Linked DNA regions of Homo sapiens. The protein of the gene in region 1 interacts with the protein of each later gene in a biochemical or structural test. Each region holds a gene or a part of one and is shown on either strand. Other genes may lie near its edges.

Region 1 (3,824 bases):
TACTATTGTATGGTTTCGTTTTTGAGAATTTGTTTTATAATGTTTTCTTAAATGAATTAAAATTTAGCTGACACCGTCACTTGGGTAAATGCAGTAAAGTCGTGGTTTTTCTTAGTTCTTTGAGGAGAGAAACTGACCTGCAGCTTATTGTCATAAATCCAAAGTTGTTAGTATAGTGTTTAACAAATAGCAGGGGCTCAATTTTCTTTGTTGAACAAATAAAATGAATGGGTAAAGAATATCCATTGAATTAATATATTTAGTGAAACATTTTTAAAGATTTATCAAACATTATAATTAATGAAATGTATAACTTTATCTCAGGAGAAAAGAGAAAAATGAATTTCAAGGTTCTTTGAACTCCATTTACCTGCTCAGATATAATTCCATTACCTGTACACTTTTGAACTGGCACTAGATACTTAATAATGTATATGTTAGTAGTCTTTGATTTATGAAATATTAACAATTTTCTTCTTATAGCTCACTTTATGAAGATGTATGTTAACATATTTTTTGTTTTTCCTACACTAGATAGAAGTGTGTTTGATTCTTTGTGACTTACGTTTTCTAGTGAAATAGTAATAAAAAAGATATATGTAAATTAAATCCTATGCTGAATGCTTGAGTACCTAGTTGTTAAAAATAAATGACCCCTGAAGTGGAACTTTTTATAAAATTAAGAATCTTGTGTTTTAAGTTTATCACATTCAGCTTATAATTTTGAGTCTTTGTGAATTGGTAGTTCTAACTTACTACACAATTGATTACATTTTACAACTTGTAAAATGGTTTGGAACTTGAGTCTTATTTTCTCAGAAACAGTATACTTAGTGGTTAGAGTCACAGACAGCCCACTAAAGCCTATTTAAATAATAAAATACCTGAATTATAGGATTATGTTAATACTAAAGAAATTATAAAATTATGTTAATAATTAGCATAAGTATATTAAAATACCTATAATAATTTGTATGACAGTCTTTCTATGGGAAAAATAAGTTTCAGATGTACCCTGAAATGCTAGGATCTGTAACTCTTGTGTTAGACATGACAACATTATTAGGAACTTGTTCTCTTTCACCCAGTGGACTTGAAGAGGAGGCTGTTTCTCAGTTCAGTGAGTGGCATAGGCTTACATTATCTGGGACAAGAAGTTAGGGCATGACAAAAATTAGAAGGAAATGCAGTCTTCTGCGTGACTTTACTTCTCAAGATGTTTGATTATAAAATGAAAAGGTAGAAGTAGATGACTTCGGAGATCTGTTTTAGCTACAAATAAAATTCTAAGATACTTCGAAGCTTGGTGTAACCCCCTTTTTTTCCTGAGAGTTCATTTTCCCTAAAGTTACCGCTTACGTCCCTCTTATGAGGACATTTCTTCTTTCTGGACCTACCTCTGAAAAAGAAAGTAGTCTTGATCCTTTCACACGTGCCTGTTCTCAGAAGCAAGATTTTTTAGTCTCTTAAAGGCGTTATTTTTGTGATGGGTTTTTTGTTTGTTTTAATTTTTAAAAATAAACTCCCAGCACTGTCAAGAAACAGGATTTTTCTTTTGGATTGTTTCCTTTGTTTCCTTATTTTGAGCTATTGGTAAAGTCAGGGTAGATTTTATTCATACTTTGAAGAAAGATCATATCCAGTCAGTCTCCATAGAATTTTTTTAAGGAAAAAATTTTGGAATGAGGTCATGAAGTGGGAGTATGAAGATATAAAGATGGATTATTGCCCCATAAAATACGGGGCATCTTGTATTTGTAGCAGCCTTACCTGGGGTGCTATGGAGCTTTGGTATGGATGTGATGGAGCTGAAGGCAGATTGAGAAAGTGAATCTGTGAACTCCTTGAGGACAGTTTTGTTGTAAGCGTTTGGTTGTTTTGTTTTGCTTTGCTTCATTTTTGTGTTCCCAGTGCCTGTTTTTGGTTTAAGCTAAATGGATTTTGAGTGTATGCAATTACTACAGAATAAAAGAGAAGTCATTCTGTTCCATGTGGAAAGATCAGGGTGCTGTGAGGGAAGAGGTCATGAAACAGCTATTTTTGTCATATGCATTGGAGTATTTAATAATTATTTGGAGATCAGTGATATTCAAAAATAATGTGTAACATGGTCCAAAAGGAAAAGAAGTGACATTGCTTGCTTGCTAGATGTACAAGATTCTGTATAGATGCTGTCACATTTATTATTTATCTTGTTTAATTGCTATCATAGCCCTATAAGGATTTAATTGAAGAAAAAGGTTAACTGAATTGAACAAGTTGTTTGTTCTGCCTAGCGGAAGCCCAGATTGTTTCAGAACTGCTTTATCTCCCCTTTTACTGATAAGTTTCTGTTGGAGCAGTCATTTTAATAACTTGATAATAACAATTCTGCCTGCCTGCTACTGTCCCCTCATTTGTAATTGGTTCATTTAGTGGGTCCCCCTTGTTAAACCAGTGATTCATAGTTCATAATCAGCACATAATTATTGAGGGCCAAGTAGGTGCTAAAAAGGACAGGTCTCTATTCTCTTGGAGTTAACAGTATAGTAAAAAACAGGTGTTGAACAAATACATTTGTACTTAGAAATTTTGGTGAATGCTGTAAAGGAAAAGAAGAGGGAACTGGATTTACACTGGGAGTCAGGGGAGGCTTCTTAGAGGCAAGATTAGTGGAAGTTAGCTAGGTGGAAAAGGAAGAGAATTCAAAGAACAGGTGAAACAGTTAAAGCTTAGTGTAAGAGGGATTGTGACTTGATATGAGGTTGCAGAGGTAAACAGAAGCCAGACTATGCAGAGGGCCTACGTGAGGTTTGGTTTAACGAGGTTAAGGATTTTAAGTCTATTGGGGAAGGCCATGAAGAGTTTTAATCGGGTTAATTACTGGATCAGATCTGTCTTTTGTAAAGATCACTTTGGCTTGGAAGGGGCCAGAGATACCAATCACAATTCTGTTCATTTCTGTGGTTTATTGGCCTGGTTTTAGACACTTTTTTACTAAGCCAAGTCACTCAGAACTTTTCCTGGGTCCTCCATGCCCAGAGGTTGAATAATTTGTTTTCTCTTCAGTTGCTGAAGCTGTGAGATACAAAACTCTGGAACTGTTAATGGCCTTGTTTCTTGCCCTGTGGGCTAGATAAGCCAGGGCTTCTAGAACAAAGAGTGCAAAGAAGCAGATGCACAGAGTCCTGACTGTATTTGAGTTCCTTTGTCCATGGTCCTGAGATTGGGTTCCAGAGACATCCTAGTTACCTTTGTCATAAGTCCTCCTTTTTGCGTAAACTGTTAGAATTGTATTTGTGGTACTTGTCAACCAGCAAACTGAGTCCTCTCATAGATCAAGTAATTTGCTCAAGGTCACATGGCTAATAGAAATGGAGGTGGAATTTGAGCACAGATATGTGTGATTTCAAAGTCCCATTTTTTTCCTACTCCCTTATGCTGCAAAGGTACCATTTCTTAAACTAAAGGTCCTAAAGAAATTCTAAGTAGGTGGGTTTTGGGTGTGATGACATCTGTTGGATGATGATGACAGCAAAGTTTTTTTGTTTTTTTGTTTTTTTAATTTGGTGTGCTTGATAGTAGTTAGTCCAGCATGTAGCCATTCTTTATTCCTAACCTAGCCAGGTCTACTCCAATAAAGTTACATTGACTAACTTATTTGAAAAGAAGAAAAGCTTATGTGTCAGGGCATGGAATAACTTGTTTGATTCCTTTACCAAAAAAGTCAAGTGTGTTATGTTTTCACCTTATGCTACAAAAGTAAGTTTGTTTTCTAGTTGTTTTAATAGGGACATCTTGCTAAATTTGTTAAATTTGCTAAATTTTTATAACATGCATGTGCT
Region 2 (3,824 bases), on another chromosome or scaffold:
AGAGGCAGAGGTTGCAGTGAGCCGAGATCATGCCACTGCACTCCAGCCTGGGCGACAAGAGCGAAACTCCATCTCAAAAACAAGGAGGAGGAGGAGGAGGGAGGAGGAGGAGGGAGGAGAAACGTAAAATGGCTTGCCTAGCCAAGGAAAAAGAAAAACAGCCATCAAACCAAGGCAGTAAGTGCCAGGATATAGGAGACAGATGAAGCTTGAGAGACCCTTATCCGGTCCATCTGCGCTGCCTAAAGAAGAATTTAGCAATTTAGTGCACCAACTTTTACAAGAAGTGTCCAAGGAATTACATTATTTGAAACCAGAGGCGAACATAATTATGATAGCCATTTGTGCGTGTGGTTAAACACACACCATGTTAAAAATCATGCCACTGATAGAACTCCCACACACAAATAGTGCTTAATCCTTTTTTTCATTAATGATTTGTAAATTGTTGAAAAATTGTATACTCGATGAAGGACTCTGGCAGTGCTGTTTTTAAATAAATGATGTGGCACTGACCATGATCTTCTGTAAGATGATAAAACTGTTGGAACAGCGACAGCCTGCCACAGATGATGTCTTCATGTCGCACCTGTGTTGCGCGGGTTGCTGGTCCCTGAGAAGCTTTGCTCTTAGGATTTTCCACTCACCCTGTCACCTGTCAGCCTCGCCTTGATCCCTCACCCCCGACTCTGGTGTGGCAGCCTCAGTGACTGAGCTCCTCCGCCCCCCTCCTCAGCAGGGCTGACTTTCCCTTTAGCTTGGGAGGCTCAGCATTTCTGTTTAGCCTGCCGCGATGGCAGCGCAGCATTTATGCCGGAGGGGCAGTGAGAGCGTCAGGCAACCAGCTAACACTGCTTATTTTGTCTGCCTATGGGCTTCATGTGAGTTGCCTGCCTTCTTTTCCAAACCCCTCGGGGCTTGCTGTCTTCCGAGGCCTTGTAAATGGGAAGTATTCAAGCCCATGTGTATGAACTGATATCGTTGTCACCCCCCTTTCATGACTCGCTTCTATTTTCAGGGACCTCAAGAAGAACCAAATTCTTTGGTACTTTCCCCGGAAACTACGTCAAGAGGCTGTGAATTGCGCTCCCTCCTTCTGTAGAGGCCGCCTGCCAGCCATGCACCTGCGTCAACGCGCCTGAAACACCCCGCGGGCCTCCCGTTGTCATGCCTTACGGTTTCCAATGCGCCGTCACCATCTCCACCTGCCACCAAACCACCAGCAGAGTAGCCGCCGCTGCTGTGAGCCTGGGGACGACATGGCAGGCTGGTCCCCCTCCGTGAAAGTGTGGATTCCTACTTCCTGCTCTAAGCTTTGACACGTCAAAATGTGGGATCAGAAAGAAAAAAATCATGATATTTAAAAATGGTCAAATATTTGAGGCAAAAAAAAAAAAAAAAAGTGTCTCCAGGAGGCTGTCCAGCCTCGTGGCTCCATTTCAACATCTCCCCCCAGGCGATGTTCTCCCCCAAGACGACCAGAAAATTGTTTATTGGGGAATGCTGTGGTTTGCATTTTCATATTCTTCGCTTGGCAGTGTGTATTCTTTTCACAAGTTTGCCTAGTGTCTTGGTTTACACAATATGACAACTGTAACTGTACTTTAGCTATTGTTTGCCTGCACATACATGTTGTAATATGCACAGTGATTACAACCTTTAAAGCAAGAGGAGGCGAGTTAATTTGGATGAGTGTGATTTTGCTGATTGAATGTGAGTTTTCAAATAGGAGTCTTTTTCTGCAATTTGTTTGCATTTTTTAGAAGTGCAAACAGTAAGTAAATAAAAGCCTTCGGTAATAATCATGACAATACAAGAGGCTGAGCTAGGCTACAGGGGAAAACTATTGTGTTGTAAAGTTGCATCGCTATTTTATATTAAAATGTAATGATCAGCATCATGAACAATGAGCTCTTAGTGTTTTATTTATCTGAAAAAATGTAAGTAAAAGCAGTGTTAGTGAGAGGTGCAAAGAATTATTCTAACAGACACCTGAAAGTATCTGTAAGCAATACTAGTAGGTAAGATTTCACTGTGTGTACACATACACATTTGAGATTGTATGAGAACATATAATCCATATGATATGTTGTACATTTTATGGAAATGTAATAGAATCTCACACATTATTTTATAGAAATAGAGTACAGAAGCATCACAAGTATTAAAGTTGGTTTTAGCAAGGATTAGGATTACTACAATTATTTTTACTATAATAATTATTTTTCTTCTATGGAACTCAGAATCCTGGCTACATTTGAGGACAGGAATATGTTGAGCCTGATTTTCCTGGTGTGTGTAAAATATTTCCTAGGAATAAATTAGGCACTTTTTAGAAGCAATGTTAAATCATTCAGGTTTTATTTTCTGCCCTGAAGCAGAAATTTAAAAAATGATATTGGGACCTGGAAGGTTTAATATGGTTCACAGTGCCTGAATTACACCTGCTCCGAAAACTAGCTTTGTATTTCTTATGACTTTGCATAAGAACTGTTCATCTTTGGATCTTGAGCACCTTACAGATAAAACTTTTTATGGCATCTCTTTCATGGACAGTGATATTGATCTTTTCACAATGTACGTAGCCTCTAGAATTTTGTACATATGTTTGCTCTTTTTTTGTACAGACTAGTTGTTGAGAAAACAGGGGCGTTTCCTAATTTGGTCTTTATCCTGCGACAACACTTTCAGCAGACTAGCCTCTCCTTATCTCACAGATCACAAGCACCCCTAGATAGTGTGATTCTGTCAGATAGCATTTATGCAAAAATCTATGAAGTTAAAAGATCGTAGAAGCCAAATGAAATGTACATATCTACTGACTGATGACAAGGGAATTTCATTAGGAAGAAGGTAAAGAAACATCGTTGAGTAGCCTACCTTGATTTCTGTCAAGTTCATAACCAGCTTCATATTTTAAAGGCTTCAGGTTTGAAATTAAGTCAACTGCATGCAGCTTTGCTGATAAATGAATAATTCTCTTTGATGCCATTTATGAGAAAAGACTTCAATATCTGTTGCCTGTCATATTTAAGAAAAATTACTGTTTCTACTCTCTGTATCTGATTTTAAAAGAAAAAACTATTCATACCTGGCTTCCAGGTAATTGACTTTGAATTCTTACAAGCAAAGGTCATTGTGTTTTTCTTGAATAGACATCTAATAAATTTTGCTTGGAAGTATACTTCAGTTTTTCTTCTTGACATTTATCTTTATAAAAATTGTGTATTTTATTCCAACTTGTTAAACTAAGAGAAAATGCATTTTGTTGTGTGTTCTTTTAACACAAACATGGAGAAAAGCTGTGTCAGCATCAGCTCAGAGAAGAAATATTTTTAAACCCACCACCAAAGCTCATTTGCTAAACGTTCTTTGGCTAAAAATTGCCCTTCAGTTAAAACAATACATTGTAAAATATTTCTGCCTCAAAACAGCTAGTTTTCCAAGGAGGGGTTAGTTACAAGGAGTTGTAAGCACTTTCCCAGTTCAACACTCTGAAATTTTAAAATCTTTGCCCTAAGCAGCTTCAGCACCATTGGCTCGGCAGCTTCTGCAAATGTCCACAGGCTTTCAGTGAATTTCAAATGATGGGTGGCGGTGGGGTCCCCGCTTTCTGCCACACAAATGGGAAAGAGCCAGCTTGCCTGCTTGGATCTTTTCTCATATACCTTAGTCCCTTCTTGCTCTATGTGTTTTGACCCTTTTCCATATCTATCTCTTAAATATTCAGAAATACGGACATTCCTCTTTTGCCAACTCGGTTATCAAAGATGTCTTGTCACGTTGCTTCCCCTTAACACCCACTCTGGTGCCTTCTATGCCAT

What was found.
Region 2: the proteins of WASF1 (region 1) and SORBS2 form a complex in vitro, tested with the Homo sapiens proteins (one study listed by BioGRID).

What each region holds. Positions count from the first base shown.
Region 1 is NC_000006.12:110,173,030-110,176,853, reverse strand, and holds part of WASF1 (actin-binding protein WASF1), read left to right. Parts: intron 1-3,824.
Region 2 is NC_000004.12:185,584,883-185,588,706, reverse strand, and holds the end of SORBS2 (sorbin and SH3 domain-containing protein 2), read left to right. Parts: intron 1-516; exon of another isoform or gene 517-782; intron 783-1,018; coding exon 1,019-1,080; 3' UTR 1,081-3,184; downstream 3,185-3,824. UniProt on the Homo sapiens protein: Adapter protein that plays a role in the assembling of signaling complexes, being a link between ABL kinases and actin cytoskeleton. Can form complex with ABL1 and CBL, thus promoting ubiquitination and degradation of ABL1.